Homo sapiens: one gene and its partners. The protein of the gene in region 5 purifies or fractionates together with the protein of the main gene of each other region. This does not show direct contact. Each region holds a gene or a part of one and is shown on either strand. Other genes may lie near its edges.

The links.
Region 1: the proteins of CEP131 (region 5) and LPXN purify together in Homo sapiens (co-immunoprecipitation; one large-scale study listed by IntAct). This does not show direct contact.
Region 2: the proteins of CEP131 (region 5) and TTC16 purify together in Homo sapiens (co-immunoprecipitation; one large-scale study listed by IntAct). This does not show direct contact.
Region 3: the proteins of CEP131 (region 5) and P4HA3 purify together in Homo sapiens (co-immunoprecipitation; one large-scale study listed by IntAct). This does not show direct contact.
Region 4: the proteins of CEP131 (region 5) and RASSF8 purify together in Homo sapiens (co-immunoprecipitation; one large-scale study listed by IntAct). This does not show direct contact.
Region 6: the proteins of CEP131 (region 5) and PIBF1 purify together in Homo sapiens (affinity purification with mass spectrometry; one large-scale study listed by BioGRID and IntAct). This does not show direct contact.
Region 7: the proteins of CEP131 (region 5) and SPATA2 purify together in Homo sapiens (affinity purification with western blotting, with the first as the bait; one study listed by BioGRID). This does not show direct contact.

Annotation. Positions count from the first base shown.
Region 1 is NC_000011.10:58,544,541-58,548,992, reverse strand, and holds part of LPXN (leupaxin), read left to right. Parts: intron 1-4,452. UniProt on the Homo sapiens protein: Transcriptional coactivator for androgen receptor (AR) and serum response factor (SRF). Contributes to the regulation of cell adhesion, spreading and cell migration and acts as a negative regulator in integrin-mediated cell adhesion events.
Region 2 is NC_000009.12:127,722,579-127,726,078, reverse strand, and holds part of TTC16 (tetratricopeptide repeat protein 16), read right to left. Parts: intron 2,961-3,500; coding exon 2,746-2,960; intron 1,960-2,745; coding exon 1,715-1,959; intron 1,324-1,714; coding exon 1,182-1,323; intron 1-1,181.
Region 3 is NC_000011.10:74,308,288-74,313,330, reverse strand, and holds the start of P4HA3 (prolyl 4-hydroxylase subunit alpha-3 isoform 1 precursor), read left to right. Parts: upstream 1-1,690; 5' UTR 1,691-1,719; coding exon 1,720-1,919; exon of another isoform or gene 1,920-1,969; intron 1,970-5,043. UniProt on the Homo sapiens protein: Catalyzes the post-translational formation of 4-hydroxyproline in -Xaa-Pro-Gly- sequences in collagens and other proteins.
Region 4 is NC_000012.12:25,964,741-25,969,192, forward strand, and holds part of RASSF8 (ras association domain-containing protein 8), read left to right. Parts: intron 1-4,452.
Region 5 is NC_000017.11:81,215,854-81,220,305, reverse strand, and holds part of CEP131 (centrosomal protein of 131 kDa), read left to right. Parts: intron 1-232; 5' UTR 233-249; coding exon 250-426; intron 427-4,452. UniProt on the Homo sapiens protein: Component of centriolar satellites contributing to the building of a complex and dynamic network required to regulate cilia/flagellum formation.
Region 6 is NC_000013.11:72,788,263-72,792,714, forward strand, and holds part of PIBF1 (progesterone-induced-blocking factor 1), read left to right. Parts: intron 1-4,184; coding exon 4,185-4,285; intron 4,286-4,452.
Region 7 is NC_000020.11:49,905,159-49,909,610, forward strand, and holds part of SPATA2 (spermatogenesis-associated protein 2), read right to left. Parts: intron 3,435-4,452; 5' UTR 3,333-3,434; coding exon 2,997-3,332; intron 1,688-2,996; coding exon 461-1,687; 3' UTR 1-460.

The DNA of each region.
Region 1 (4,452 bases), on a different chromosome or scaffold from region 5:
CACTCACTCCTAACATATTTCCCCTCCCCTGTTTTTTCAATATATAATTATGTCATAATTACAGGTTAGATCAGTATTAAGTGTGCATATGTTGACAATCATAGAATACTGCTCACAAGTAAGCCATGTAGCAAACTGACTACACTAGAGTCTGGATTTTAGAGTCAGACTTCCAGGTTCAAATCTGGGTTGTGGTATTTGTTCAAGTCATTTAACATCTCTGTACCTTACTTTCCTCATCAGTAAAATAGTCCTAATGAAATTGCCTACCTTATAGGGTTGTTATGAGGATTTAGAGACAATACAAGCGTGGTATTTAGAATAGTGCCAAGCACATGGAGGTATAGTAGTGTTAATATTATTATCACAGTGTCCTTTTGGTATAAATTCATTTTTTTCTAAAGTTAACATTTGAATCCTTTTTGAAATTGGCTTAGTTTTTATTGTACTTATCACTAAGTTATGCAACAGAACTGTGAAATTCTTTTCAAAATGGCCAACTACATCTGGCAACAAGTCAGTTTCTTTCTTTTCTTTTTTTTTTTTCTGGAGATATCCCTCCAGGAGACTTTCCTCCTCCTGATTCAACATGAAATGATTTCTTCCTGCTGAGTAGCAGTCATTCTGGTTCATTAACTTAGAATTATATCTAGTAATTACTCTTGGAAATTCCTTTTATTAGTTTCCTCTTTGGATGCTCTGTTTCCTGGGTCCCATGTCTATGTTTTATACATGTTACCACCTTTATTTTGGTGGGGAACATCCCCTAGTAGCTTTCTGAGAAAGAATTTTTGAGAACTTGAATATCTGAAAATATTTTTATTCTGTCATTGCCCTTAAGTTGCCTGGGCATAGAATTCTAAGTGGAAACTATTTTCCTTCATAATTCTGAAGACATTGCTTCACTGTCTTCTAGCTTCCATGATTGGCAAGTTTTTATTAAATTTTTTTTATCCTTGATCCTTTCTACATGACCCATTCTTCCCCCTTTGTATGTTTGTTTCATGTGTTTTCTGAATTGTCTTGTTTTTTTTAATTTCTCCTTTTTATGTTTGTTTTGAACAAATATGGAATCAGAAAGCTGCTTTACTTTGTTTTTCTCCTGTCCTTTTAGAATGAACTCAGTGGGGAAGGATTTCTCCTCTCATAAATAAAAGCTTGTGCAGTCCTCTGTCTTTTCTGATTACTGTTAAAAAACAGTTCTAAATATAAAATCAATTTAAGAAACAAAACACAAAAACTAAGCCATTAGGTAATTCAGTCTGTGTAATAGTTAAGGCTTCCAGCACTTTAAAAGTGACAGCCACTCCCTCTCTTTTTTAGGACCTTCAAGCTGCAGGAGGCGAGGACAGGGGTATGGCCTTTCCTCTCTCCTGACCTCGCTTTGTTATCTACCACCCTCACCCTTATTGCCAGCCTTGACACCTGCCTGCTCTAGGGTTGAAACACTAGGGAGGATGGAGATGAGAATAGAAGGCAGGAAGGTCTAACTTGTCTAGGATTGTTGTTAAATTGGCTTTATGCTCTCCAGGCTCAGCCAGTGTTTAGCTCTGACTTTTTTCCCTGAATTCTTTTCGGGATTAAGACAGGTCCAGCAGTGAACTCTTGATTGCCCTTTACGTGTCTTGACTAGCTATTCTCTCCTTGTCATGTTTCTTTGAGGATTTGTTTTGTAAAGATTCTTTTTTCAAGGGGCTTTCATTGTTCCCTCCTAGTGAACCCTTAGAAATTATTAACATCGTTCCAGATAATCTCTTCCTCTCATATTTTCATAGAAGGACCATGGATAACTTACTCTTTTCTCTGACAGCCAGTGGAGTTATAATTTTTAGCTGCATGTTTCTATTCAGCTGCCATAGGCTCTTTCAGCCAGACTCATCTATGGACTTTTTCCAGGGGTAACTCTGATACCACTAACTGCATCTCACTAATGCCAAGGCACACATATCCAACTCTCTGAGTCGTCCCAGTGAAGTCCCTCTTTTAACCTGAGGTTATCAAGAACTATACCTCATCTTTCTTGGTGGTGATGGGGCACTCATAGCACAGTTTTCTTCAAAGGAATCCTTCTCTCAGTTTTCCTTTTTCTTTACCTGTTTTCTCCTGAACAAGAGTGAGGAATTCCAGAATTGTACAAGTAATCTTTGACTACCTGTTTGGAGGGATGTTTTGCAGTTCAATTTGGAATTTGATATATATTACATCTTGGTGCCTTACATTTGTTTACACTGGTCTTTCCCAATACTGCTGATCCATGGTTGTCTGTTACTATTTAAGAATGAGACACTAAAATGCTAATTGCAAACTCCATGGATATAGACAGAAATTGTTGACTGGTAGACTTGACTATATGGTACTCAGGTAAGATACTCTGGCCATTTTGTTGAGTGACTCCTGAATATGACAATCTTAGGTCTTTTCTGTTGAGTCAATTATGCTAAAGAGATGTTCTCTTTGCCAGAATTCTGAGATTGAAAAAGGGGATGGGGGAATGGGCTTTTCACCATTCAGCATGTCAACTTTTACTTAATTCCCATTTTTCAGTAGAGAGCTTGACTCGTTTCCTCATGGTGTCCAACATCTCTGATCACTGAGACTCTCTTGTTCAATATTTACAGAAATAATCATTGCATCTTACGGTAAGATAAGGCATCTAACTTTCTAATGGTTCTTTAGACTTTCAACCAGTCCTGTTTCTAGCCTTGAAGAGTATCTCATGCATTCAGTTCCTGAGCCCCTCTGATGTTATCATATTCAAGATGGCTTGATTTTTATTGGCCTCTCCCATCTGTGGAGACGTAAGTTCCAGTTTTCTTATTTATGTTAAGCCAGGTACCACTCTTAAAATCTACTTTAAATTCTTGAAAATTTAGTTAATATCTCATCTGGTGGCATATCCTTTACTTTTTTCTCTTTCCTTATGGCTCTTTATAATTTACATAATTTCTTAACTGTCATGTTAATGATGTTTCAGGAGGGAGTAAAGAAAATCCCATGTGTTTAGGCCCTTTTACTAATATGGAGACTTTCCTAAATATCAGGCATATTATTATGTATATGGTTAAAAATAATTTATATGATGCCATCACAGTCTGTGAGAGCAAGTTTATTCAACATTTTACCTAGTTATAGATGAGTCTCAGGTAGGTAAAGTGATTTTCTTAAAGTCACACAGTTAGAAAGTTGAAGAGGCAAGATTTCAACTTGGGTATCATTTCTGCAAGTTCCATGTTTTTTATAAAACATCACAACTGCCTTTTGACTGAAATTCAATTCCTCTTCGGCTGTTGGATCTCTTTACTTTTGTGGTACCAACACGATATGCTTTATTTGACAATAGACCCAGATACAGTGGTGCTGACAGAATCCACTAGCAAAGTGCTCTGTAGTAATTTGCTTGTTCACTGGAGCTTGCTCAATGCTTTTTCACAAATCATTAGGTATTTCATTTCTAGATGGTATTTTACCTAAGCAGCATTTTTCATTGACACTTAATCCAAATCATCTTAAATTGTGTCACAATAAATTTATATTGTACTGGTAGCCATAAAAGTCTGAGAATTAGTTGAGTACAACAGTCAACAAGTGAATACTGCCTATGGATCATTATGATGGAGAAGTTGCCTGAAAGCAGAACAACAGGACATAGGCACATTTCAGGTAGAGACATAAGTTAGATACACACACAAAAAAATACCCAATCCATAGGATGACCAGAAAGCACCATTAAGGTAGCTAGTTCTCATTTTCTTGACTCAGGCCCCTTCTAAACAGACAGGGCTGATGGGGTCATTTATGGCTTTATATAAACAGGAAACAACACTTAAAACATATTTATACATAGAGCCACATGACAAAAAGTGACATTTATTGATCAGAAGCTCCACTTGGGTTGTATTTTCCTTTTTATGCCTGGCTTTCTGTAAAAAGGTCTCCTGCCATATGATCAGTTCATTAATTAGGTGTCATCCTGCCTCACCCCAAGTTAGATAGTCACAAAGAGTTTCTATAATGACAGTTTAACCTCTGAGCCTCCTGGGAAATTAAATTCATCTGCATTTTTTCATCAGTCCAAAGAATTCCTCTTTAAGGCTCAAGTCATTGGTCCTTGGCATCCTCCCACAGGGATGAGCTCTTCAATGTCTACCTGTGTTTCTTTTTAATTGTTCATTATCCAGGTCATGCAGGTGCTCCCTAATTTCCCCTGTGGCTAAGAGCCTCACCAGAGTATAAACACTCTCCCTCTTTTTGTGGCACTTTTAATTGTCAGTATTTCTCATTCTTCCTCTAGAGGTAATTGGTCCCAAAGAGATCCTCCAAGAAAGCAAGAGCTGAAACTTTCTTAATTTATTAGATTATGAAATGCAGGGGTATCACAGCAAGTTTGGGTGATTGCTTTTGATTTCTTTCCTGAGATTTACCCAAGTTGAAACAGAGGCTGTTACTCCCCTG
Region 2 (3,500 bases), on a different chromosome or scaffold from region 5:
GCCAACACTTCGATGCCAGTGTGAAACTCCAACATCAATGAATATCTTTATGATCTTGGGGTAGGGAAGGCGTTTCTGAGAATGGCATAAACCCATCGGCTAAAATGAATATATTAATTTGACTATGATTAAGTTCCAAGTTATTGAGTAGTAAAAATATCACAAAGAAAAGCAGTATAGGCCGGGCATGGTGGCTCACGCCTGTAATCCCAGCACTTTGGGAGGCCAAGGCAGGTGGATCGCCTGAGGTGGGAAGTTTGAGACCAGCCTGGCCAGCATGGTGAAACCCTGTCTCTACTAAAAATACAAAAATTAGCTGGGCGTGGTGGCAGGTGCCTGTAATCCCAGCTACTTGGGAAGCTAAGGCAGGAGAGTTGCTTGAACCCGGGAGGTGGAGGTTGCAGTGAGCTGAGATGGCGCCATTACACTCCAGTCTGGGCAACAGAGTGAGACTCCATCTAAAAAAAAGGAAAGCATAACGGAGAGAGAAGCTTTTTTTTTTTTTTTTTTTTTTTGAGACGGAGTCTCACTCTGTCACCCAGGCTGGAGTGCAGTGGCTTGATCTCGGCTCACTGCAAGCTCCACCTCCCGGGTTCACGCCATTCTCCTGCCTCAGCCTCCCGAGTAGCTGGGACTATAGGCGCCCACCACGACGCCCGGCTAATTTTTTGTATTTTTAGTAGAGACGGGGTTTCACCAGGTTAGCCAGGATGGTCTCGATCTCCTGACCTTGTGATCCGCCCGCCTCGGCCTCCCAAAGTGCTGGGATTACAGGCGTGAGCCACCGTGCCCAGCCTTTTTTTTTGGGACAGAGTCTCACTCTGTCGCTCAGGCTGGAGTGCAGTGGCGCAATCCTGGCTAACTGCCAGCTCCGCCTCCCTGGCTCAAGGGATTCCCGTGCCTCAGCCTCCTGAGTAGCTGGGATTACAGGCACACACCACCACGCCCAGCTAATTTTTAAATTTTTTTATATTTTTAATAGAGATGGGTTTCACCATATTGGCCAGATTGGTCTCAAACTCTCGACCTCAGGCGATCCACCTGCGTGGGGATTACAGGGATGAGCCATCGCCCCCGAGGAGAGAAGCAGCTTGATTGACCCAGGGATCCCAGCAGTTGGCCTCCTGCCCGCCCTGCCCTCGGGCCTGCCCCGCCCACCGTGGGGGCGGGAGCCCACGCACTTGCGCCTCTGCTCGCAGAAGCCCATCTTCTCCTGCAGCAGGCCCATGCGCGTGTTGGCGCCCTCGTCCTGAGGGCTCAGCGCCAGCGCCTGCTGGTAGTCCGCCTCGGCAAAGGCCAGGTTGCCCAGCTGGAAGAAGCAATCTAGGGTCCGGAGGCGGGGGTGAGTGGACCCCCAACTCCCAGTGCCCGGGAGCCCCAGCCCAGCCGGCTCCAGCCCGGGGGCCAGGGCCTGAAACTGGTGGCTGATAACCCCCCGCCGCAGTCTCCGTCCTCTCTAGTTTTCTGGGCGTCTGGGCACTGTTCCCCAGCTGCCTGTTTTGAGCATTTTAAGGAGTCTGGAGCCAGTTTGTCTAAGGCAACATTTCCCAAAGTGTGTTCCTGGGATACTGAGACTATTACATTTCCTCTTCCCTTGCTTCCTTCCTCTCTCCCTTCCTCCTTCCCCCCAGGGGCCTCAAGTGCCCAGTGGGGGCCTTAGAGATGGCGAGGCTCCCCCGCACCCCCCCTCCCCAGTGCCCTGGTCGCTGCGCACCGCCTCGGTTGATGTAGAGTCCTTTCTCCTGCTGCTCGTCCCGGAGGGCCTTGTTCAGCAGCAGCACGCCCTCCTGGTAGGCGCCCTGCCTGTAGCAGTGCACGGCAAAGTCGTTGTAGGTCAGCAACAGCTGGCGCTGTGCCTGCCGCACCATGTCCTCCTGGTCCTCGGTCACCATGTCCAGCACCTTCAGGAAGTCCTCCACTGCCCCATCGAACTCCTGGAGCCGTCGGTACATGGTGCCCCTGTCGGGGGGGGCGTGGGAGACGGCAGGAGGGACATGAGCGCCAGTGCACCCCCACCGACTGGCTAGTGGCCAGACAAGCCACTGCCGGCTCTGGGCCTCCTGACCCATGGAGGCAGTGGGGATCCCACCTCATTTGCTAGGTTTGTCCCGTGGGGCCAGCTCTGGACTGCTACTCAGATAACCCACTAGGCACTGAGCATTTTTTTTTTTTTGCAAAAATACCTTCTTTTTTGGGAGCCAGGTGTATGCCAGTCTCTACATTAAAGCATTTTGTACAAGAAGCAGGTGTTTTACCACCACTGTTTGGATAGGTTAATTGGCCCGAAATCACAGTGGCCTCTCATGTCACTGAATCACTTGTGGGATACTGAACCCAGCCCCTTGGCATAGGGAGAGATTGGCTGGGTGGACCGCCCCCTGGAGTCACTCCTGCCAGGGCAGCGGCACTCCCTCCTGAAATGCAGCAGGATGTGGTAAGTTCCTGGGACCAGACTCAAGCCTAAGTCTCCTCCACTGAGCTGGGCTCAGCGCCCAGCGTGAACTGCTTTGCAGGCTGCAGCTCTAGGATTCCTGGGGTAACTGAGACATGTGTTGGCATCCCTCTTCCAGCAGTAACAGAGACCACCTCTGCAATGCCTTAACCCAGTAGGAAGTAGGGAAAGACTGTTAGAGGCTAGCTGGGGAAACTGAGGCCCAGAGAGGGTCAGGGACTCTCCTTAAACCACACAGAAAGTCTGGCTGGGCAGGACCTGGGACCCAAGGCCAGCACCTTCCCATGCAGTACCGGAAGAGGAAGAGACTGGGGTCCAGAGGGTTGTTCTCGATGGCACGGTTGATCCGCTGCAGTGCGTGCTGCAGCTTGCCCTGCACAGCCAGGATCCCCGCATCTTGGCGCGCCTGCTGGGCCTGGGCCACCATCTTCTGGAGCAGCATCCTGGCCTGCGGGTGCTTGGGATTCAACAGCAAGGCGCTGTGCAGGTCCCGGTAGCAGAGGTGGGGCTGCAGGAGGCCATGGGTGGCATCAGGGGCACAGACCAACTGAGCCACGGGACCTAGAGGCCTTTCTTCAGCAGGGTGGCATCACACCATGCCTCCTCCGTGCCCCTCACATCCCTCCATGTTCCACCCTTTCTGCTTTTTTTTTTTTTTTGAGATGGATTCTCACTCTGTCACCCAGGCTGGAGTGCAATGGCGTGGTCTTGGCTCACTGCAACCTCTGCCTCCCGGGTTCAAGCGATTCTTCCACCTCAGCCTCCTGAGTAGCTGGGACTACAGGTGCGTGCCACCACACCTGGCTAATTTTTGTATTTTTGTATTATTTTTTAGTAGAGATGGGGTTTTACTATGTTGGCCAGGCTGGTCTCAAACTCCTGACCTTAGGTGATCCGCCCACCTTGGCCTCCCGAAGTGCTGGGATTACAGGTTTGAGTCTCCATGCCTGGCCCCTTTCTGCCTCTTGAAGGAGACAGGGAGCATCGTGGAGAAATTCCATCCCAGGCCCCATGCCAGCTGGCCCTTTCCAGATGTGACCTCAGGTGA
Region 3 (5,043 bases), on a different chromosome or scaffold from region 5:
GCAGTGGTGTGCTGGAGCTGGCTCACCCCAGCTCACAGGAGTTGTTGGCATCTTTATCCAACCACAGTCAGTGGTGACATTTTTGCATGTCGAAATTAGCCACTGTGGGAGAATTGACACCACAGAAATTGGCAAATGCCACAAACCAGAACTTTATTTTTTTCCTGGAGAGCTGGTTTACCAGCACACCTCGAATGTGGTCCACAAGTGATTAACACTGAGTAGGTTAATGATTGTCCCTACAATTCAGTCTTCTCATCGGTAAAGTGGGGCCAATAATACTGTAAGAATACTAATATTACTTAGGCTATAGGGTCAGCATGAGAATTAAATGAGTTAATACATGTAAAATACTCTGGACAGCGATTAAATGAGTTAATATATGTAAAATACTCTGGATGGCGACTGCCACACAGGAAACACCCGGTAAGTATTAACTACTATGTTTACTGTTGCCATTGTTATTACAATTATTGCTACCTTAAAAACTTCCACTGGATTTTCATAGAGGACAAGCACCTAAATTTCTTAGTATGACATGCAAAGACCTTTCACAATCTGATAGTTTCAAGCACAAGAAACTTTTCATCATTTCTGGAACTCAAACTGTTTTCCACCTCCAAACCTTGTCACGCCCATGTACCTTCTGCCAGGAAAGCCCACTCCTCCCTTGCCTGTCAACTTCCAATTTTTTTCATCCTTTTGAACCAGCACCCATCACCTCCTCTCTGATGCCCTCTCCACCCACTACATGAGGGTTCCTTCTTCAGTGTTGCCATTGCATATTGCACAACCCTCAGTTACTCTGACAGCACTTTATTGTGATTACTTGTTTACATAACTGTCTCCTCCTTTGAGTCCAGGATTGGATCTGCTATTTCTCTGTGTAGGCAGCACAGTAACACAGGTACTAATAAATATTTGTTGCATGAATGAACATTGCCTGGGAAATGCATAAGAGGGGGGAAATAGAGTACATAGCCTAGTAGGCTATAATAATAATAATAATATTTTTATTTGCTTAAGTGACTCTAAGTATATTGTGTAAAGCAGTGACTTTAGGACCCCAGAGCTTCAGGTTCTGTAAGTCCTAGATTTGTCATATACTCACATCCTGACACAGTCCTACTTATCCTTCAGATGGCTCAGATGTCACGCTCTCTGTGAGGGTTTTCCTCCCAGCTGTCCTCTTGCCGCTCTTTGCCTGCGCACCTATTCACATACGCATAATTGACTCTTCTGGACGTCCCTGTGGGGATCCAGTGGTGTTTGTGTATTCCCACTCCATGGTACAGAGGGGCGGATATTTTGGGGATCCTGTGAGCGTGGTGTTAACAATATTTGGGGATAGTCACAGCCTTAGACCTGTGAATTCATCGCTCACCCTGCCTCCGCCTCAATTTCCCCTAGTGTGATGGGCACAGTGGAAACACCTTCCCAGGGTCGCGATTTAGTGGAGGGCGGCGGAGACTGATGTTGCAGGAAGCCCCCACGCATTCCGAGGAGCTGAGGAATAGAGAGCGAGGTGAGGCGTCGAAACAAGGAAGGAGTCAGGGGGCGTGGAGCGAGACTGGGCGGTGGACGGGACGGGCCGGGCCGGGGCCAGAGGGCGGGGCCTGAGCCGGGAGGGGGCGGAGACAGGGGCGGGGCAGGCGAGGGCGGGAGCGGCTGCCGCCGCGCGGCCAGGACTGTCTGAGGGGAAGTTCGCGAGCGCTGGCTATGGGTCCTGGGGCGCGGCTGGCGGCGCTGCTGGCGGTGCTGGCGCTCGGGACAGGAGACCCAGAAAGGGCTGCGGCTCGGGGCGACACGTTCTCGGCGCTGACCAGCGTGGCGCGCGCCCTGGCGCCCGAGCGCCGGCTGCTGGGGCTGCTGAGGCGGTACCTGCGCGGGGAGGAGGCGCGGCTGCGGGACCTGACTAGGTGAGGGCACGACGAGTGGGAGCGACCGAGGGGCCTCAGTGGGATACACTGTGCCGCAGGGTGGGGTGACTCAGGTTGAGTGTGACCCCAGGCTCATTGTCATGCTGCGTGGGACCCCAGACCCACTGTCGCACCGTGCGACTGAGACATTGTGGCATGGGGTGGGGAGTGGCTCTGAGGGCCAGTGTGACCCCCTAGACCCATTGTCACCCTGTGTGGGACCCTGACACTCCGTGGCATGAGGTGTTGGCGAGGGTTGGGTCACACTGGGACTGCAGACTCCATCACACACATAGTGGCACCCCCCATATCCAGCGTCACACAGCAAAGTTGATACACTGTGGAAGAGCGGGGCGGGGTGACTCTAGGACCTCACAATGTGCTGTGCAAAGCTGTGTGAGCCCCAGGCCCTGTGTCACACTGACACAGACACAGTGGACGGTGCTGTGACAGAGACACTGTGAGAGTGACATGGAGAGAATACGGTGACGCTTTAGCTACGCAAGTATTGACCTTTCAAGGGGGGATCGTGAAACACCGCATGACCTAGTGAGCTGATGTTTAGTGTTAGGAGTCAGGTGACAGTCTTCCACCATATGTGAGGTTTACATGTCATTGGGACTGGATGGGCACGACACTGTGGATATCATACTCTGCATGTGAATGATGCTGAGTAACTGTACAGGTCGCTATATGAATAATGCTTCAGTTCATTAATTCATACAACACATATTTTTGAGTGCCTACTAAGAGCCAGGCAGTGTTCCAGGCAGTGGGGATAAAATGGTGATCAAGAGCCAACTCTGCCCTCGAGGAGTTTGGGTCTGTAGCACCATGACTGTTAATCAGAGATGTCCACTGCCGTCTACGTCTTCAGTTCTTCCTTCTCTTTACACATGTAGAAGCTCTCTAAATACTAAATAAATGATAACTGAGATGTTATATGTGTGTCAACATATTTGATATCAAAAAAGCACTGTGAAAAAACATACTTGATGCAGAAGATACTGAGTGTAGCACACAGCAGTGGATGCTCAGCTAATATAGTTTTGGGGTACAGTCAACAAACTCTAGTGCTACACACTGTGGCATAAAAGGTTGTCAGACTTGGGATGCTGAGGCACCATAGTCATGTATCGACTTAGCAGTGTCCAACTGACAAAAATGAAAGATAAATGATTGTATATGATACCATCTGTATGAATATGTGCTGCGCCTTCTCTGCCTGGGACATCAAGAAGCCTACAACACTGACAGAGTGGTTATGACCACGTCACTATTTGGATATATTAATATTGTACTTATATCATGTGACCTTATCATTGAGCAAAGACAGCACAATGCACTGCTTTTAAAACTTTGCGTGAGTGTGTGTGGTAATAATACTGATTCTGGGGTGACATGAGAAGAAGGTATGTGGAATGGGGAGTGACTCTGAGGTCCAGTGTGACCCCCAAACCCATTGTCACCCTGTGCGAAACTTTGTGACCCCATGACTGTGAGAGAGAGCTATGTAGAAGAGAAGCATTTTGTGGGTGGAAAGTATTTGCGAGAGATCTTGTTAATAGTGACTGAATGAGCTAATGTGGTGCTTGTCCTTAAGTATGTGGCTTGCGTATAAACAGCTTGAAATAGTGTGACAATATACAATATAGGTATGTATTAATTTTAACAATAAATGAAGATCATTTCAATAATTATTGTCACTCTTTGGAATAGCATAGTTGTCTAGTATTCTATGGGTCCATGTTGACCGAGCCAAATGTTTTCTTTTTGTTCATAGCCCAGAGTCATTGGAGTCCAAGCTTATTAGTGGAAATAGGACAGAATTTTTTCTCTTTGATTTCAGAGCCCAGCATTCTCCCTGCTACCCATGCTTGTTCTCATACCAGTAATCTCTTTGGGTAGCTCAGATGGAGACGGGAGTGGGGGGTCAAAATCCCCCTGCTGGTCTTTCAGGTTACATTCTCAGAAGAGAGCACTTGAAGCATTTTGGCCAAAGCAGCTGGCCAACCCCATTCCACCATGCTGGTCTCCTTCACTGTCTTTCCACCACTGTCATTATCACAACTTTGTCACAGCAGGAGGTCTCATACAAACCATATCTCATCTGATTCTCTCTCACACACAATGCTTTGAAATAGATTTGTATTACACTTGTTAACTATTGAGAAATCAGTTAAAACATGAGAAAACTAAAGTCTAGTTGCTCACTCAAGATTGTATTAATAAATCTAATAGGTAGCAAATCCAGGACTAGGACACAGTTGTTTTGATTGTTTATCCAACTTTTTTCCTACTATGCTATGTTATCCCTACCACTTCTTTTATCTGTTATACCAAGACATAGACCAAGCCCCTAACTAATTGAGGTTTTACTAGTGGCCACAGTACATGGTGGTTAACAGTGAATTCAGGAGTTTAACAGACCTCTATTTGAATCGTTGGCTCTGATCTTGGACAAGTTACTTTACCTCTTTGAGCTTTAGTTTCCTAATCTGTAAAATGATGATAAAAATAGTACCTACCACCATAGGGTTTTTGGAAGGATTAAGAGTACCATGTAAAAGTTTTTATCATTGTACCTGGCATGTAACAATTGATGGACAAATGCTAAGCCTTTATGCTTATTATTTTATTTTATTTTATTTTAAGACCATCTAGTGAAACTAGGCCCCACTTTTGGCTCTAAGTATTAACTAGGATTGTGACAGCCTAGATAAAAAAACAAATCAGAAAAGTTCTCAATTATTTTCTCAGGTGACTTATGAACAGTTAATTTTGTAGTTTAGTTTGATATTTTGAAGACTGTCATTCTGTCATTCTGTTCTCTAGTGACTGCTCTAAAACCCAGTGAAATGTTTGCTTTTTAAGAGACAGGGTCTTGCTCTGTCACCCAGGCTAGAGTGCAGTGGCTCTATCATAGCTCACTATAACCTCAAACCCCTGGCTCAAGTGATCCTTCTGCCTAAGCCTACCAAGTAACTAGGACTACGGGTGCACACCACCATGCCTGGCTAGGGTTTTTTTGTTTTTGTTTTTGTTTGGTTTGGTTTGATTTGGTAGAGACGGGGTCTTGCTCTCTTGCCCAGACTGGTCTTGAACTCCTGACCTGAAGTGATCC
Region 4 (4,452 bases), on a different chromosome or scaffold from region 5:
GATGAAACTCTACTGTAAAAATACCAGTGAGAAATAGGGATGTTTTGTAATGTTGAAGGTAAAATTTGTTCATTTCTATGGGAAGTTCTAATACGTTAAATGTCAGAATATCTTATAGTAGTTTATTTGTGCTGTATTTTTTCTTTTTAGTGTATAATGACTTCCCTTATATTTCTTTTTTTAAACAGCTTTATTTAATTAATTAATTTATATATTTTTTGAGACGGAGTCTTGCTCTGTCGTCCAGGCTGGAGTGCAGTGGCACGATCTTGGCTCACTGCAAGCTCCGCCTCCCGGGTTCATGCCATTCTCCCGCCTCAGCCTCCTGAGTAGCTGGGACTACAGGTCCCCGCCACCACGCCCAGCTAATTTTTTACATTTTTATTAGAGACAGGATTTACCATGTTAGCCAGGATGGTCTTGATTTCCTGACCTCGTGATCCGCCTGCCTCGGCCTCCCAAAGTGCTGGGATTACAGGCATGAGCCACCGTGCCCAGCCTTAAACAGCTTTATTGAGATATCATTGACACACAATAAACTGCACATACCTAACTGTACAATTTTACAAGATTTGATCTATGTATACACATGAAATCATTCCCACATCACTTTCCCAAATTTCTTTTTTTTTTTTTTTTTTTTGAGACAGGGTCTTGCTCTGTTGCCCAGGCTGGAGTACAGTGGCATGATCTTGGCTCACTCAACCACTGCCTCCTAGGTTCAGTCAATTCTGCCTCAGCTTCCCGAGTAGCTGGGACTACAGGCTTGTGCCACCATGGCTGGCTAAGTTATGTATTTTTAGTAGAGACTGGGTTTTGCCATGTTGGCCAGGCTTATCTCTCCACCTCAAATGATCCGCCCACCTTAGCCTCCCAAAGTACTGGGATTACAGGCGAGAGCCACCATGCCCACCCCAAATTTTCTCATTCTCCTTTGTAATTTATCTTCCTTTCATTCTCCCGTTTCCTCTAAACCACTGGTCTGCTGTCACTATAGAGTAGTTCAAATTTTCTGGAATTTTAGATTAATGGAATTATGCAGTAATATACTTTTTTTTGTTGTTGAGGCTTCTTAAACTCAGAATAATGGTTTGGAGATTCATTCATGTTGATTTATGTAGTAGTAGTTTATTCCTCTTCATTGCTGAGTAGTATTTCATTGTGTGAGTACACAGCAATTCATTTATCTACCTATTGATGAACATTAGATTTGTTGCTAATTTTTGGCTATTACAAATAAAGCTGTTATGAATACTTGCATACAAGTATTGTATAGACATATACTTTCATTTATCTTGGGTAAGTACCCAGGAGTGGAATGGCTGGATCTTATGGTAGGTGTATGCTTAGCTTTTTAAGAAACTGCCAAACTGTTTTCCCAAGTGATTGTACCATTTTACATTCTTAACCACCAGCAGGTAAACATGCTGTTTCCTTTGCATCCTTGTCAACACTTGGCATAGTTGGTCTTTTTTAGACATTTGTGGTATTTTATTGTGGGTTTTTAAAATTTTTATTTTTTTAATTTTAAAGACAGGGTCTTGCTCTGTTGCCGAGGCTGGAGTACAGTAGTACAGTCATAGTTCCCAAGTAGCTAGGACCACACACATGTGCCACCATGCCCGGCTGTTTTTTAAAATATTTTATTTTGTAGAGATGAGGTCTTGCTATGTTGCCCAGGCTGGTCTTGAACTCCTGGCCTCAAGCAGTCCTCCCACCTTGGCCTCCCGGTGTTGAGATCACAGGCATGAGCCATGTGTCCAGCCATCATTGTGGTTTTAATTTGCATTTCCCTAACAACTAGTGATGTAAAGAATCTTTTCATGTGTTTTTTATGCTATCTTTGTATCTTCTTTGGTGAAGTGTCCTAGTCTTTTGCTGATGTTTTTATTGGGTTGTTTTCTTATTATTAAATTTTGAGAATTCTTATATATTTTGAATACAAGTGTTTCATCAAATATATGCTTTGCAAAGAATTTCTCCCAGTTTGTGTCTCATCGTTTTCTTAACAGTGACTTTTGAAAAGCAGAAGGTTTTAATTTTGATGAGGTTCAACTTATAAATTTGTTTTTTATAGATTGGGCTTTTGGTGTGGTATTTAAGAAATCTTTGCCTAGCCTAAGGTCATAAAGATTTTCTCCTATGTTTTCTTCTAGAAGTTTTATGTTTTAGATTTAGATCTGTGATGCATTTTGTATTTCTTACATGGTGTGAGTTATGGATGGAAGTTAATTTTCTGCATATGGAAATTCAGTTGTTCCAACACTGTTGAAACGACTATTCTTTCTCCATTGAATTGCCTTTGCACCCTTGTCAAAAATCAGTTGTCTGTTATATCCTTTTTTATTGTATCAGTTGATATACACATGGTATTACACAGTATTGTTAATTATCACAGCTGGATGACCAACTAAATGAAAAGCAGCTATCTCCAAGCCAGTACTTGATAATGTGTTTTTGTCACGTTTAATCACATTTCTAGTTTCCTTACAATAGCCTTTGTGGAAGGCTTTCCTACTCAGACATTCCTTCTCCCTCTTTTCCTTTCTTTTTTTGTTATTTGCTCTCTGTTATAATAATAAAGTCTGGTGATGAGGGTACATACATACCTTATCCCTTTTAACTAATCTCAAATACACTTTTTAAAAAATGTTTCCTATTGATAATTATATTACTTTTCTTTGAAAACCTCCCAACCTAGATCATTCACTTAATTTTAATTTTTCTATTCTTGATTATGTGTTTCTTCCCCTGTTGTATTCTGCTGAGTAATGGCATGATTGGAAAGAGTGCCCACTTAAGTTAAAGCCTGGCTACACAGGTGTAGCCTTGAAGAAGTTGTGAGCCTTATCGAGCCTCAAGTTTCTAATGTCTAAATGGGGCCACTGATTCTTCACTCTGGGTTGTTTTGAAATAAAGGAGATGTTTATGTATGTCCACATACAGAAACAAATGGATATGAAGTACCTCAGTGGAGAGTTAGTGCCTTCCCCTTACCCAACTCCATGAACTCTGAATAATCATTTTGTTTGAACTGGGAGGCAGGACAGGCCTCTGCTCTCTGGGGAGGACAGGCACTGACCCCTCTGCAGTCTATCCAGGCAAGTAGCTCTGAAGAGAACTGGAGTTAGAGACAACCCTGTCTGTTCAAGTCATGCAAGGATGGGAGAAGAGCTCCTCACCATGCACACCCTGGATCCCGCTGTCTTCGGGGCCCTTCTCTATCAGTAATCCATCCTCTCTCCCGAATTCAGTCTCGCCTTTCCTTGACTTTTTGCTTTGGGCCTGGAAACAATATGTCAAGTCCATTGACCCTGGTGCTGCTTCTAGCTGTCTCCTTTCTCAGCCAGCTTCTTACAGGGGTTGTCTGTGCTTATTGCTTCTACTACTTCACCTGCCAACTCACTCCCCAGCCAGGTACCATTTCTTAGAAACGTTTCATGCCACAGGCATCCATATCTTAATTGCCTAAACCAGTGGAAACTTTTCAGCCCTAATATAACTGAAGTTGTTTGCAGCATGTTTACACTGTTGGGCTGTCTCCCTCCATCTTGAAACGTTGCTTCCTTGGCATCACTCTTTCTTTGTTCTTTATTTTTTATTTATTTATTTATTTTTTTGAGACAGAGTCTCGCTCTGTCGCCCAGGCTGGAGTGCAGTGGCACGATCTCGGCTCACTGCAGCCCCCGCCTCCCGGGCTCAACCAATTCTCCTGCCTCAGCCTCCCGAGTAGCTGGGATTATAGGCATGTACCACCACACCCAGCTAATTTTTGTATTTTTAGTAGAGATGGGGGTTTTACCATGTTGGCCAGGCTGGTCTGAAACTCCTGACCTCAGGTAATCCACCCGCCTCAGCCTCCCAAAGTGCTGGGATTACAGGCATGAGCCATCGCACCCAGCCTGTTTGTTCATCCTTTTAGTTGTTCATTCAAAGCCAAACTGCATGCCCCTCCATGAATGAGGATATAGCAGAGAGTAAAACACACAAAGCTCCTGTTTGCATGGAGAGCACACTGTACTAGGGGGAGAGAGATAATAAATGAACAAATATTTTCACTTTATTTATTTGGTGATAAATGCTTTAGAGAAAAAAATAAGGTGGGGGGATTGAAAATGCTAGGGGTGGGAGTAGAGGTGTTATTTGATATTGGATGGATAGGAAGCCCTTGCTAATGTAAGCACATTTGAGTAGAGACCTTAATGAAATGAAGGAGCCAGCTCTCTGGCTGCCTACAGGAAGAACGCTCCAGATAGAGGGCACAGTGCAGAGGCCCTGGAGCCAGTGCTCACATGTGTACCCACATCCCAGCCACCATGCGGGTAAGGCTGGGGGGAGCAAAGGGCTGGAGATGAGGCAGAGGAGGTAGTGGGGGTCCCTATACCTTAGGCCTTATTGGCTATGACAAGGATCTTGGTTTTGACTCTGAGTGAGAAGACAGTTGAGAGTCTT
Region 5 (4,452 bases):
CATCATCCAGGGCCCTCCTGCCCTGGCATACACTGACATTGGGCTCAGAACAGCTCCCTCATGTTCCTGTCGAGGAGCCTGCCACCAGCCAGAGGGGTGCATAGGTTGTGACAGGCCTTCCCAGGAAGTTTGGTGGCCAGTGGACCCAGCTGAGGCTGGGCTGGAGATGGTGGGTGCAGGGGACTGTAGTTCCCCCACGGCATCTCATTGCAGCTCTTGCTTCCCCGCTCAGGACCTGCCTTGTCCACCATGAAAGGCACCCGGGCCATCGGCAGCGTCCCGGAGCGCAGCCCAGCAGGTGTGGACCTGAGTCTGACAGGTCTCCCTCCGCCTGTGTCCCGGCGTCCTGGCAGTGCCGCCACCACCAAGCCCATCGTCCGCTCTGTCTCCGTGGTCACAGGCAGCGAGCAGAAGAGGAAGGTGCTGGTGAGTACTGTGGCCTAGGAGTCCGGGCCCCTGCCTCCTGGAGGGCTGTTGTTCAGTTGGCATCTGACCCCTGGGTCCAGCTCCACAGGTGAACAAGTGCCTCACATCTGGACATGCTGGATCCTCGTGGCTGTTCCAGGAGGCAGGTAGGACTTGAGTCTTACAGGCGTGGGTGCTGAATCACTAGAAAGTCAAGCCAGAGCTTGGATTCTTTCAGCAACAGCCCCAGGCCTCCTGTGCCACCGCCCTTTGGATTTGTTTGAATCCTCAGGAAATGGGGTTGGCTGGGCTCGGTGGCTCACGCCTGTAATCTCAGCACTTTGGGAGGCCGAGGCAGGCGGGTCATCTGAGGTCAGCAGTTCAAGACCAGCCTGACCAACATGGTGAAACTCCGTCTCTACTAAAGATACAAAAAAAAATTAGCCGGGCATGGTGGTGCATGCCTGTAATCCTAGCTACTCGGGAGGCTGAGGCAGGAGATTTGCTCGAACCCAGGAGGCAGAGGTTGCGGTGAGCCGAGATCGTGCCGTTGCACTCCAGCCTGGCGACAGAGTGAGATGCCATCTCAAAAAAAAAAAAAAAAGAAAGAAATGGGGTTGACCTGTGGGGAGGGGTGATGAGCTCCTGGTGGCCTTGGAGAAACCTAGACGGGTGTGTGGGTGTGTGGGCAGCAGGACAGCCGTGGGAGCTTCGGGGTGAGAGCTGCCTTTCCTGCCCACCTCTGGGAGTAGGGAGGAGGGTGGGTGGTTCCCAGATGGGGGCTGTGAAAGGCAGGCCGGGCCTGCTGCACCCTGAGTTGGTGTCTGCCAGGCCCAGTCTTTGGGGCAAGGGAGGAATCGAGCCGCTCTGTGGGGGTTGGGGCAGAGCCTGACCAGAGTCTGGCCTGAGCTTCCGAATAGCAAGGGCCTGGGGGCCTTGGCTTCCATGCGGCAGCCGGTCTGGGGCTCCCTGCCTGAGGTCCGTGCCAGGCAACATAGCAGGGCAGAGAGAAGGGGTCTGGAGGGCAGTTGAGGCTTCCCACAGGAACCCCTGGCAGGCCCAGGCCAGGGTTCCACTGTGAATAAAAGGCTTGGACCTCCCCCTTCTCCTTGAAAAAGTTATTCCTGTGTCTGCCCTAGAAGCACCCCCAGGTGGGCAGGGTGTGGCCCGCCAGACGGCTAGCCGAGTTCCGGGGTAAGGGCAGCCGGGCCAGTAGCGGACCCTTGGACCAAGCAGGTTCCCAAAGCCTGGGCCAGCAGGGCGGGGACCCGGGATGTCCTGATGTGTCATTGTGGCCGGCAGGTTGTCTAAAGATGTGGTACGCCTCTAGGCATTTACAGACGTAAGCTGTGAAAATAAAAATATGCTGCACTGTTTTAGCAGAGGGGTAACCAGCTTGGGCTAGAGCCGTCTCTGAGCCTGCTGCCTCTCCTGTCCGCAGCCCTGCTCCTGCGTCACTGACCCCCTCGCCCACCTGCCTTGGCCCCTCCCGCTGTTTCTAAAGCCCTAGGTTCATGGCACATGGGGCGGGGAAGACGCACTCGAAATCGCAGATCTGGGCTGGGCGAGGTGGCTCACGCCCGTGATCCCAGCACTTTGGGAGGTTGAGGCGGGTGGATCACCTGAGGTCAGGAGTTCAATACCAGCCTGGCCAACATAGTGAAACCCTGCCTCTACTGAAAATGCAAAAATTAGCCGGGCGTGGTGGCGCGCACCCTTAATCCCAGCTACTCAGGAGGCTGAGACAGGAGAGTTGCTTGAACCCGGGCGGAGGAGGCTGCAGTGAGCCGAGATCATGCCACTGTACTCCAGCCTGGGCGAAAGAGCAAGACTCTGTCTCAAAAAAAGAAAGAAAGAAAGAAAGAGGGAGGGGGAGGGGGAGGGAGAGGGAGAGGGAGAAGGAGAAAGAAAGAAATTGCAGCTCTCTTGTTGTGTGGAGACTGTTGTAAAAGTTTCCGGGCTTTCTAGTAGATGGTCTTTCGGCGGCATGGCCAGGCTCTATCCGCGGCCGACCCAGGCACCTAACCACACTCCCAGCCTTTCTGCTGGGAAATGTTCTGTTGCTGAGTAGAGGTTCAAAGCCACAGCGAGCGCTACTCATATCGATCCCTCCTTTCCTCGGCTGGTACCATTGCCCGCTCCCGCAGTGTTGAGTGGCGACTGCTAACAGTCCCCTCGTTCATGGAATGTTCCAGCTGTTCACTTCAATTCTTTGAGGCCCTCGCTCGATCCGAGACGGCCCCACCCCTGCATGCCTGTCTGCCTTCTGTTGTGCCCATGGTGGGAGCTCGGGAACTGCTGGTGGAAGAGGAACCCCCGCCAGTGTGTGACGTGACCTCAGGGGTTTCTGTTGTGCCCGGTCCCCATCCTCTCGGCCACCTGCCCTGCTACCACTCAGTCTCATCGGGATTCCTGGAGAGCATTTGTTTTGGCCAGGCATGGCTTCACACCTGTACAAGGCGGCACGTGATTCTCTTCCTCCTGGTGTTTGTGGGTGGGGTGGGGTGCTGTCCCCTGGCTCGGAGACCTTCTCGGTGGCCATTGGCCTGGGGTTTCCACTCTACCCCTTGTCTCTAAAGATCTTCCTGCGTCCACGGCCTGCTGTCCCGGGATTCCCCATCCAGGATGTAACTGCAGTTCCTGCTGGTCTTCTGGCTCAAGAGATGTCGGTGCCAGACTGTAGAGGGTCCCTCTTCCTTGCCCCAGCTGTGTGCCCACCTGATCCTCTAGCCCCCTAGATCATTATTCACTCTGGTTCCCTTCCCCTTAAAGAAAAGAGGTCTTTAAATCCCAAGAGCACAAGCTCACTGGGGAACAGACATCACTGTGCATATGTGTCATGGCCATGGGGGCCACCTGCCCCTCCCTGGGCGATGTTGCCTCCTTCTTGCAGGTGGAGTTTAGGGTTTTTAGTCCATGACTTGATTTACCATCTGAGCATGAGTGGTGCCTTTCCACCGTGGTGTCCGTCAGTGAGTGGCAGCCCCTTCATCCCTCCCCTGACATCCCTTATCTTCCTCTTGGAGGCTGCGAAACTGACCCCAGGAAAATGGAGACAGGATGAAGGGCACCCATAATCCCATGGCCCTGATGCAATGACTGGTGCCATTTTGGGGGATGATTTCAAAATTCCTACCATGTGTTTTGAATAGGCCATTCACACCCACCATTTGGGAAAAGGGGGCTCATTGAGCAGTGAGCCTGTCCTGCCCGACCTTGCGGGCCTCTCCTAGGCGGCCACTGTTCTGTTTCTCCTGCACCCACACTTACTCTGGGCACACAGGCATCAGTGATGCTGGAGATGTGTTGGAACAAGTGCCGTATCCGTCAGCTGCGTGGGGCTCCTGCATTCTCTTTTCTTTTTCTTTTTAAGACGGGGTCTTGCTCTGTTGCCCAGGCTGGAGTGCAGTGGAGAAACCACAGCTTACTGCAGCCTCCACCTCCCGGACACAAGTGATCCTCTTACCTCAGCATCCTGAGTAGCATGGATTACAGGTGCTCACCACCCTGCCCAGCTAATTTTTAATTTTTTTTTTCTTTTGAGACAGACTTTTGCTCTTTTTGCCCAGGCTGGAGTGCATTTGTGAGATCTCGGCTCACTGCAGCCTCTGCCTCCCGGGTTCAAGGGATTCTCCTGCCTCTGCCTCCCAAGAAGCTGGGATTACAGGCATGCACCACCATGCCCGGCTAATTTTGTATTTTTAGTAGCGACGGGGTTTCGCCATGTTGGTCAGGCTGGTCTTGAACTCTTGACCTCAGGTGATCCTCCTGCCTCAGCCTCCCGAAGTGCTGGGATTACAGGTGTGAGCCACCACACCCAGCCTACTAATTTTTAATTTTTTTGTAGGGACAGGGGTCTCACTAGGTTGCTGGTCCTTAACTCCTGGGCTGAAGCGATCCTCCCACCTCGGCCTCCCAAAGTGCTGGGATTACGGGTGTGGGCCGCTGCACCTGACCCTGCTCCCGCTTTCCTTACATTGTTTTGTAGCAGCTGACAATAGTTCATCAGATGATGCACCAGAACTTCACCCAGTGCTCCTCTGGATT
Region 6 (4,452 bases), on a different chromosome or scaffold from region 5:
ATTTCTATTTTGGAAAGAGATTGAACCAACTGCCCAGGGTTTCAAGGATTAAGTTCAGCAGTTAATACCAGAGACTTGAAAAATGGTGGTTTCTGGTAACAGAGACCTGGAAACCATGGCTTAAGCAAGAGAAGGATTTTGTTTCTTTGGTATAACAAAAATCCAAAAATAGGTATTTTAGTAGACCTCAAGTGATTACTCCTTGATCGCATTAGGAACCCAGGCTCCTTTTAACCTTAGCTATTTTCAACATATGCTTTTCACCTGAAATCATAAGATAGCTTATCTGCCTCCAGTATTGTGTACATGTAAAAGGTGGTAATAAGGAGAAGGATAGTGGAAAAGGGGGCATGTGCCAAATGAGTCAGTCCTCTTTAAAGAGTTCTTCCAGAAGTTCAAGCCAGTGGCCTCAATTGACTAACATTGTATAGCATGACCACCCCTACCTACAAGGGATGGGAAGCTAACTGGACATGTTGTTACTAATAAAAACCAGAGTATGTCAGAAAGAAGGGAAGGTTTGATGTTGGGAGGCAAGTAAGTTTTTTCTTCTACCCATCAAAATCTTTTTTTAGTTAGAAAATATTTGAATCTAACATGTCCCACTCCATTGTGGCACCAATACAAATGGTTATGGATACATGGCTTTATTATAGTTTGTTACTAGGAATAGTCTTGGCCGTATTGATTTGAATTCTCCATGTCTAAAAACAGGAACAAGCAGGTCCAAGAACACTTTAAAAGCACTTCCCACTCAGCTGCTTGTTAACTGAAAGAATGTAGAAAAGCTACTCAGAAGAGTAGCTATTCAGGCCAAACTTCCTGATAGTAGAGCATTGTTAGCTTTACACTTTTATTTCCATCTATTGCTGCCTAGATTCCCTTCCTTACTGTACTTCTTTATTCCTTTCCTCTTCTCTGTTCTTGCCTTTCAAATTTTTAGACAGGGTCTCACTCTCTTGCCCAGGCTGGAGTGCAGTGGCTTGATCACAGCTCTCTGCAGCCTCAAATTACTGGGCTCAAGCAATCCTCTCATCTCAGCCTCTTGAGCAGCTGAGACTACAGGCGTGTACCACCACACCCAGCTAATTTTTTTAATTTTTTTGTAGAAACAGGGTCTCACTATGTTGTCCAGGCTAGTCTCAAACTCCTGGCTTCAAGCAATCCTCCCACCTTGGCCCCCCAAAGTGCTGGGTTTACAGCCTGAGCCACAGAATTGAGCTCTTTAAAATTTTTAAATGCCCCAAACTCTTTTTATTTATCTCTCATTAGAGATCTGTGGGTTCCTTATTACCTGGGAAATGAATACATTTCCCAGCTTGTCCTTGAGTTAAGAGACTCAATTTAGAAGTTAATTGAAATTATAAACATTGAAACCCTGAAAAAAATGTTTTTTTTTTCCTCGTGATACAGGTTGTTTCTTATCTAAAATGCTTGGGACCAGAAATATTTCAGATTTTTGATTTTTTTTTTAATTTGGGAATATTTGTGTTAGACCAGTTGAGCATCCCAGATCTGAAAGTCTGAAATCCAAAAGGGTCAACTGAGCATTTCCTTTGAGTGTCATAGTGACTCTCAAAAAGTTTCAGACTTCAGAGCATTTTGAATTTCAGATTTTAGGGTTTGGGATGCTCAACATGTAACAGTATTCTTGATTTGGGAAACAGTAATTATAAGGAATGTGTTTATTTTACATTTTATATTGATTTATTTATTGAGATGTTGCTGGATATATGCCAATGGATATGACAGAGGTCCCCCTTCTTATGGCCAAGACAGAAAATATTTTATGCTTTGTAGGCCACCTATGCTCTATCAGATTTTTCTTATGGGCTGGATTTAGCCCATCACCATTTTTTAATTCTTGCTTTAGACTATGTAGTCAGAAAAGCTATTGGCAAAGTTTAGCAGTTAAGAGTTACATGTCCTGATTTCTGTATTCAAAATGGCACTAAAATAATAGACTAAGGGCAGACAAGACAGAAACAGAAGAGTTACATTCCTAAGTTTTTGGCTTATTTAACTGGGGCCATTTATAAGAATGGAAGGCTGGGAGAAAACTGATCTGGGAGGTAAAATATATTAATAAGTTCAGTTTTGAAGGTGTAACTTATAGATTCCTAAATGTAATTGTCAGTTAGAGTTTAGGAGGAGTCCATCACACACACACACACACACACACACACACACACACACACACACTTATAGATAGATCACACACACCCTTATAGATAGATCACACACACACATAGATAGATAGATAGATAGATAGATAGATAGATAGATAGATAGATAGATAGATAAATCAGCATATAGGTGGCACCTAAAGCCATGGGATTGTATGGTATTTCCTAGGGAGAACAGAGGGCTATAAAGTAAGTCAAAGGGGTAGTCCAGCTGAGGAGCCTAGAAAGCTTAAGAGTATTTAGTGAGTTAAGAAAACTAGAGAAGAGTATCATGGAAGCTAAAAGAGAATGAAGTGGTTAGCTGTATCAAGTCATGCTGTCAAATAAGATAAATAGGCAGAAAAAAACAATGCACAGGACATTATGGACTTTAACAAGAATAGTTTCACTGGAATAGTATGGGGCAAAAACTATATTGAAGTTTTGCTCTGAAGACCAACAGAGAAATGGTGCTATAGCAAAGAGAATGATGTGATCAAGGGACCATTTGCTTGATGATAGAATGATTCAGTAGAGAAGAGGGACTTGACGATGCAAGAGGAGGGATTTACTTGCATATGTTATGGATTGGCTGTGAAATTCATGTATTTTTGTTTGTTTGTTTGTTTGTTTGTTTGTTTGTTTTAGATGGAGTCTCACTCTGTCGCCCAGGCTGGAGTGCAGTGGCATGATCTCAGCTCACTGCAACCTCCGCCTCCCGGGTTCACGCGATTCTCCTGCCTCAGCCTCCCGAGTAGCTGGGACTACAGGCACATGCCACCACACCCGGCTAATTTTTTGTATTTTTAGTAGAGACAGAGTTTTACTATGTTAGCCAGTATGGTCTCCATCTCCTGACCTTGTGATACACCCGCCTCATCCTCCCAAAGTGCTGGGATTACAGGTGTGAATCACCACGCCCTGCCTGAAATTCATGTATTTTAAGGGGCAAACAGGAATCGTCTTGGTTAAAGCAAAGGGAATAAAGAATTTTCTAAATAGACTAAGAGCAAAATCCAAGTGCTTGAGAAAGCACAGCATACTTGGGGGATGGCAAGCACTTAATATTGGCTGAAATGGAGTTTCCTTTTAAGCTAATGACAAAAGTAGTTGGCTAGATCAAGAAATACCACTGTATTATGCCACAGTGTTTAGAATTTATTCTGAGGACAGTGAGGATCCTCTGAAGAATGTAAAACTAGGAAAATAATTTTTTTTTTTTTGAGACGGAGTCTCGCTCTGTCTCCCAGGCTGGAGTACAGTGGTGCAATCTTGGCTTACTGCAGCCTCCGCCTTCCAGGTTCAAGTGATTCTCCTGCCTCAGCCTCCTGAGTAGCTGTGACTACAGGCGCCCGCCACCATGCCTGGCTAATTTTTGTATTTTTTAGTAAAGATGGAGTTTCACCATGCTGGCCAGGCTTATCTTGAACTCCCGACCTCAAGTTGTCTGCCCGCCTCGGCCTCCCAAAGTGCTGGGATTACAGGCGTGAGCCACCGCACCCAGCTGAAAATAAATTTTTGATAGCATTTTTTAAAGGTAAGATAGAGGAATATAAATTTGGAGGTTGGCAAAACTGGAGGCAGGAGGCCAGGCGCGGTGGCTCATGCCTGTAATCCCAGCATTTTGGGAGGGCAAGGTGGACTGATCACTTGAGGTCAGGAGTTCAAGAACACCCTGACCAACATGGTGAAACCCTGTCTCTACTAAAAATACAAAAATTAACCGGGTGTGGTGGCACTTGGCTGTAATCCCAGCTACTCAGGAGGCTGGGGCAGTAGAATCACTTGAACCTGGCAGGAGGAGGTGGCAGTGAGCCAAGGTTGCGCCACTGCACTCTAGCCTGGGCAACAGCACTTGGCCTTCCAAAGTGCTGGAATTATAGGCGTGAGCCCCTGTGCCTGGTCCCTCTATCCATTTTTAGCCTGTTTCTTTCAAGTGTTTTTAAAATATGTTTATTATGAAACTGAAAGTTTTTCTTTATGACAAATCATATAATTTATCTTTTTCTCTTTACGAAGATTGAAGAATTGGAGGAGAAACTTAATGATGCACTTCACCAGAAGCAGCTACTAACATTGAGATTAGACAACCAATTGGCTTTTCAACAGAAAGATGCCAGGTAAGAAAAGTTTTTTTTAAAAAAAAAACAACATCTATTTAGCAATTAAAAGTAATTTTATTGCCTGTTCATGTTTGTGACTGTAAGCTAAAATAGAGAAATTTTAAGTCAGAGATAGCAATAATTTTTACACCTAGACCACAAAAAAAGTAGGATACTTGATATGG
Region 7 (4,452 bases), on a different chromosome or scaffold from region 5:
TCATTTCACAAGCCAACAGGCCTCTAGCTCGCCGCTCCAGGTGGATGTTTGGTGACCTGAAGGGCCCTTCCCAGTCCAAGTTGGCTTTGCAATGGGAGGGGTAGGTGCAGCGAGGGTCCCAGAGACAGAAATCCTCTTTAAAGGAAAAAACAAAACAACAAAACAAAACAAAACAAAACCCCAAAAAAAGAACCAACTGAACAGGGAGTGGAGAGATTAGCAAAATGAATCTGAACGGAAGTGCCACCTTCTCCCTTGTCAGACAACAAAGCAGCCATTGGTTGAGATATCTGAGTCGCTAAGTGAACTCCCACGTGGACACAGCCAGCCCACGATCTCTGCCACCTACATGGTCAAGTGCAGGCCTCCGCCTCTGAGATCAATGCGTTAGTACTTCTTCACCGTGAAACCCGAAAGGTCGGTTGATGTAGCCCTTGGAGCTGGAAGGGGCGAGGCCGGTCTATCTGTACACGAGATGGGAGAGCTGGGTGGACTTGTAGTTCAGCTGGTTGTTGGGCATGAACTTGTGCAGCTCACTCTTTTTGTAGCAGGGGTCATAATGGTAAGCGCTGAGGCAGGCGTCACATGAGACTTTTGAACACTGGGTGCAGGTGTTGGTGGCGCCTGGGCGGTTGCAGAAGCCACAGCGGGAAGTGGGCGTGGTGGAGGGCTTGGATTTGGAGTGAAGGTGCGGGAGGCGGTCGAGGCCCTGAGTCTGGCCTGGGTACTTCTCCCGCAGAGATGCCCCGTGGGCCAGGCTGTCATGAGTCGAGGCCTTGCTGGGGAAGGCGCTGGGCTTGGAAGCTGGAGGACAGGTGAGCAGGCTGTCACAGCGCTGGCAGAGGGAGGAGCTGCAGGACAGCCCGCAGCTTTGGCACTTGGAGAGGGCGGACTCTTTGGCAGGGGGCGAGCGCTTGTGGTAGAGGGAGTGGGCATCGTTTCTGAGCAGCCACACATCCGGCCGCAGAGCATCCTGCCGACGGTAGGTGGCCCTGGGTTCAGAGTCTGTGTACAGATCCACGTCATCCTGAGTGGAGAAGTAGGTACCGCGCAGCAGGGCCGGGCCGTTGCTGGGGGAGGCGGGTGGAAGCACATCCGGGCTGCCGTGGGGGGAGCTGGCCATGGTCAGCAGCGAAGGGGATGGGCGGATGATCTCATCCTTGAGGTCGTCCCCCACATCCGTTGCCACAGGCTCCTTCCGAAGACTCAATGAGGCCTTCAGGGGTGGCTTCCGGCTCTCCCAGTAGCTGTCATAGGCATCCACTGACCTCGAGGGCTTGGTCACGCGGGGCTTGTAGTAGTCCTTGGCCGCCCGCTCGCTGGCCGACTTCTGGAGTGCCACTCGTGACATGGAGGCCGTCAGGTGCTCCCGGCCCTCTGCCCGCCGCCGCAGGGCGTCCGAGCAGCCGCGCACATCCTCTGCACTGCTCTTGCGCTCGCTCACAATGTCCAGCTCGGAGTAGCCCTTGTCCTTCACTTGTGAGTGGATTTCTAGCATCTGCTCACACTCGACTTTGGCCAGAAAGAGCTCAAAGGAGACCATCTTCACCTGGAGGGTCTCCACGAGCTCTCTGAGCTTGTATGCAGTGCCCAGCTCAGGTGTGTAGCCCATGCAGCTCAGGATGGCTCGGATGTCCTCTTCCAGTAATGTCGACTTGACATAATAAACAAAAGGGCCCGTGTAGGTCTAGAAGGGAGGGAGTAGAAAAGAAAGGTGGGGTTTTCTGTCAGAGACACAAGACAGAGACTATGTCAAAGCAAAGGATGTCCAGCTCTGAAGTGGGGCGGCGGGGAGAGGGCAGGGCAGGGAAGGATCTCGACAGCCTCACCCTGCGGGAGGCAGAAGACGCAGGAGCTGGGGCTTGCTAAGCACTCAGGAATTGTGCAAGGAAATGACCCAGCAGCTCCTTTCTTTTGTTTGAGACGGAGTCTCGCTCTTTTGCCCAGGGTGGAGTGCGGTGGTGCGATCTTGGCTCACTGCAACCTCCGCCTCCTGGGTTCAAGCGATTCTCCTGCCTCAGCCTCCTGAATAGCTGGGATTACAGGCGCCCGCCAACACGCCCAGCTAATTTTTCTGTTTTTAGTAGAGATGGGGTTTCACCGTGCTGGTCAAGCTGGTCTCAAACTCCTGACCTCGTGATCCACCCGCCTCGGCCTCCCAATGTGCTGGGATTACAGGTGTGAGCCACCGCGCCTGGCAGCAGCTACTTTGTTAAACACAGGAAGCAAAACCTCTCGCTTCCTAGTGGGGCACGAAGACTCTACTCCATATGAAGAGAGAGCCTGGGCAAACATGGCTGAATAAAGGGGCCAGATTACAGGCAGAACGCGGTGACAATCAGAACGTTCCTCTCTGGTATTTCCATGAGGGGCTGAGTAACACGGCAGACTGAAGGGCCTGGCTAGGTGACAGCTCTCCTGTGCCATCCCCTCTCTTGATTACCACTCCTCCCATGGCAGAATGAAGAAGCCTGGCTAGGTGACAGCTCTCCTGTGCCATCCCCCGCGTGGTCTGATTCAGGATCCCTCTCTCAATTCCCCCTCCTCCTCTACTGTTCCCACTTAGTACAGAACACCCCTCAGCTTGCTGGGACCGCTGAGAAGCTTCCTAACTGCTCTCCCCATCCCTCCCACCTCCCCCCACCCCTCTACAGCCTACTTCCCATACCACAGCCAGAATGACCCTCTTCAGATGCAAGCCAGATCCCACACTGCCTCCTTCCCCGCCTACTCAGAACAAATCCAAGCCTTGCCCTGGGCCACAAGACCCTGCATAACCTGGCTGCCCCTGCCTTCCCAGCTTCTCTGCTTAAGGTGTGGCAGCCGGGCCAGAAACGGTTCAGAGGTGATGCTGGAGAGACGGGGAAGGTTCGGAGCCCGGAAGGATCTGAGAGCACAGGATGGATGGGATCAGACTGGCATAGCCTCTCAGGAGGGACTGCCAGGGGCAGGAAGAGAGAAGGAGGGCCTGTATGGAGGCTGCTCCAGGACCTCACCTTGATGCTTCTGAATTCCTTCTTCCACGGGTAGAGGAAGAGGTTGATGCCCACCGTCTCCAGCATGCTGAAGGCGCCGTGCAGAGCCCGCAGGCTAGAGGAGCTGAGCGAGCGCAAGGAGCTCTCCACCACCTCATAGAACTGGATCAGCCGGAATCGATAAAAGGGATCCACCTTGTGCAGGCTGAGCAGGGTTGAGGCTGCCACCCGCAGGCACTCATCGCTGCCAGGCCGCTGCCTGCTGGTGGTGGTATCCACTTTGCTCTCATGGAACTGCACGTACTTCCGAAATAAGTCATCCTTGAATTTAGTATCCATTGAACTGGGCTTCCCCATCCGATCGAGGGGGGCTACCTTATCTCCTCCATGGCTTCTGGATTAGAGGCAGGGACATCACTAAAAGCATGGACATGTTGCCGCCTGGACCAGCGGAGTGCTCTGGAAGGAGGGGAACAAGAAGCATGTCATTCCTCGATACGGTCGCGCTTCGGCTTCAGGTCGCTGAGGCAAAATGAACAGCAGAACTGGCCTGGGCTACACTGGACCCCAGCAGCACACTACAGAGCATGTACTACAAGCAGGGTTACAACAGAGGCCAGAGAGAGATGGACCTTGACTTTGTTGTGCTCACAAATGAAAAATACGATTAATATTCCTGAAAGAGAAATTCGGGTGAGTACAGCAGGAGCTCCTGTCCTGGTTTCGTTGGGGAAGGGCGAGTTTAGGAAAGCCCTCTTGAGACAGCAACAGACCTGAAGGATGAGGAGTCTGCCAGGCCAAGAGGCCGGGGAAGGAGTCGCAGTAGAGGAAGGCCCTGAGCTAATAGTACCAGAGGCTCCAGACACGTGACGAGCTTCACACACACTAACTCGCTTACTTTTTTTTTGAGATGGATCCTTGCTCTGTAGCCCAGGCTGGAGTGCAGTGGCGTGATCTCAGCTCACTGCAACCTCCGCCTCCCGGGTTCAAGCGATTCTCCTGCCTCAGCCTCCCAAGTAGCTGGGATTACAGGCACCTGCCACCACGCCTGGTTAATTTTTGTATTTTTAGTCAAGATGGGGTTTCACCATGTTGGCCAGGCTGGTCTCGAACTCCTGACCTCAAGTGATCCACCAGCCTTGGCCTCCCAAAGTGCCAGGATTACAGGTGTGAGCCCCCATACCCAGCCTCACTTTTTCTTCTTAAACAATCCTAGGAGAGAGACGCTACAGGCAGCCCCAGTGGACCATGTGCAAACTGAGACACAGACATTAGAAACTGCTCAAGGTAGGCCAGGCACAGTGGCTCACACCTGTAATTCCTGAACTTTGGGAGGCTGACGGGGGAGGATGGCTTGAGTCCAGGAGCTCGAGACCAGCCTGGGAAACACGGTGAAACCACGTCTCTACAAAAATACAAAAAAATTTTTAAGAAAAAGAAACTGTCCAAGGTTATAGAACTCTCAGGAGGCAGAGAA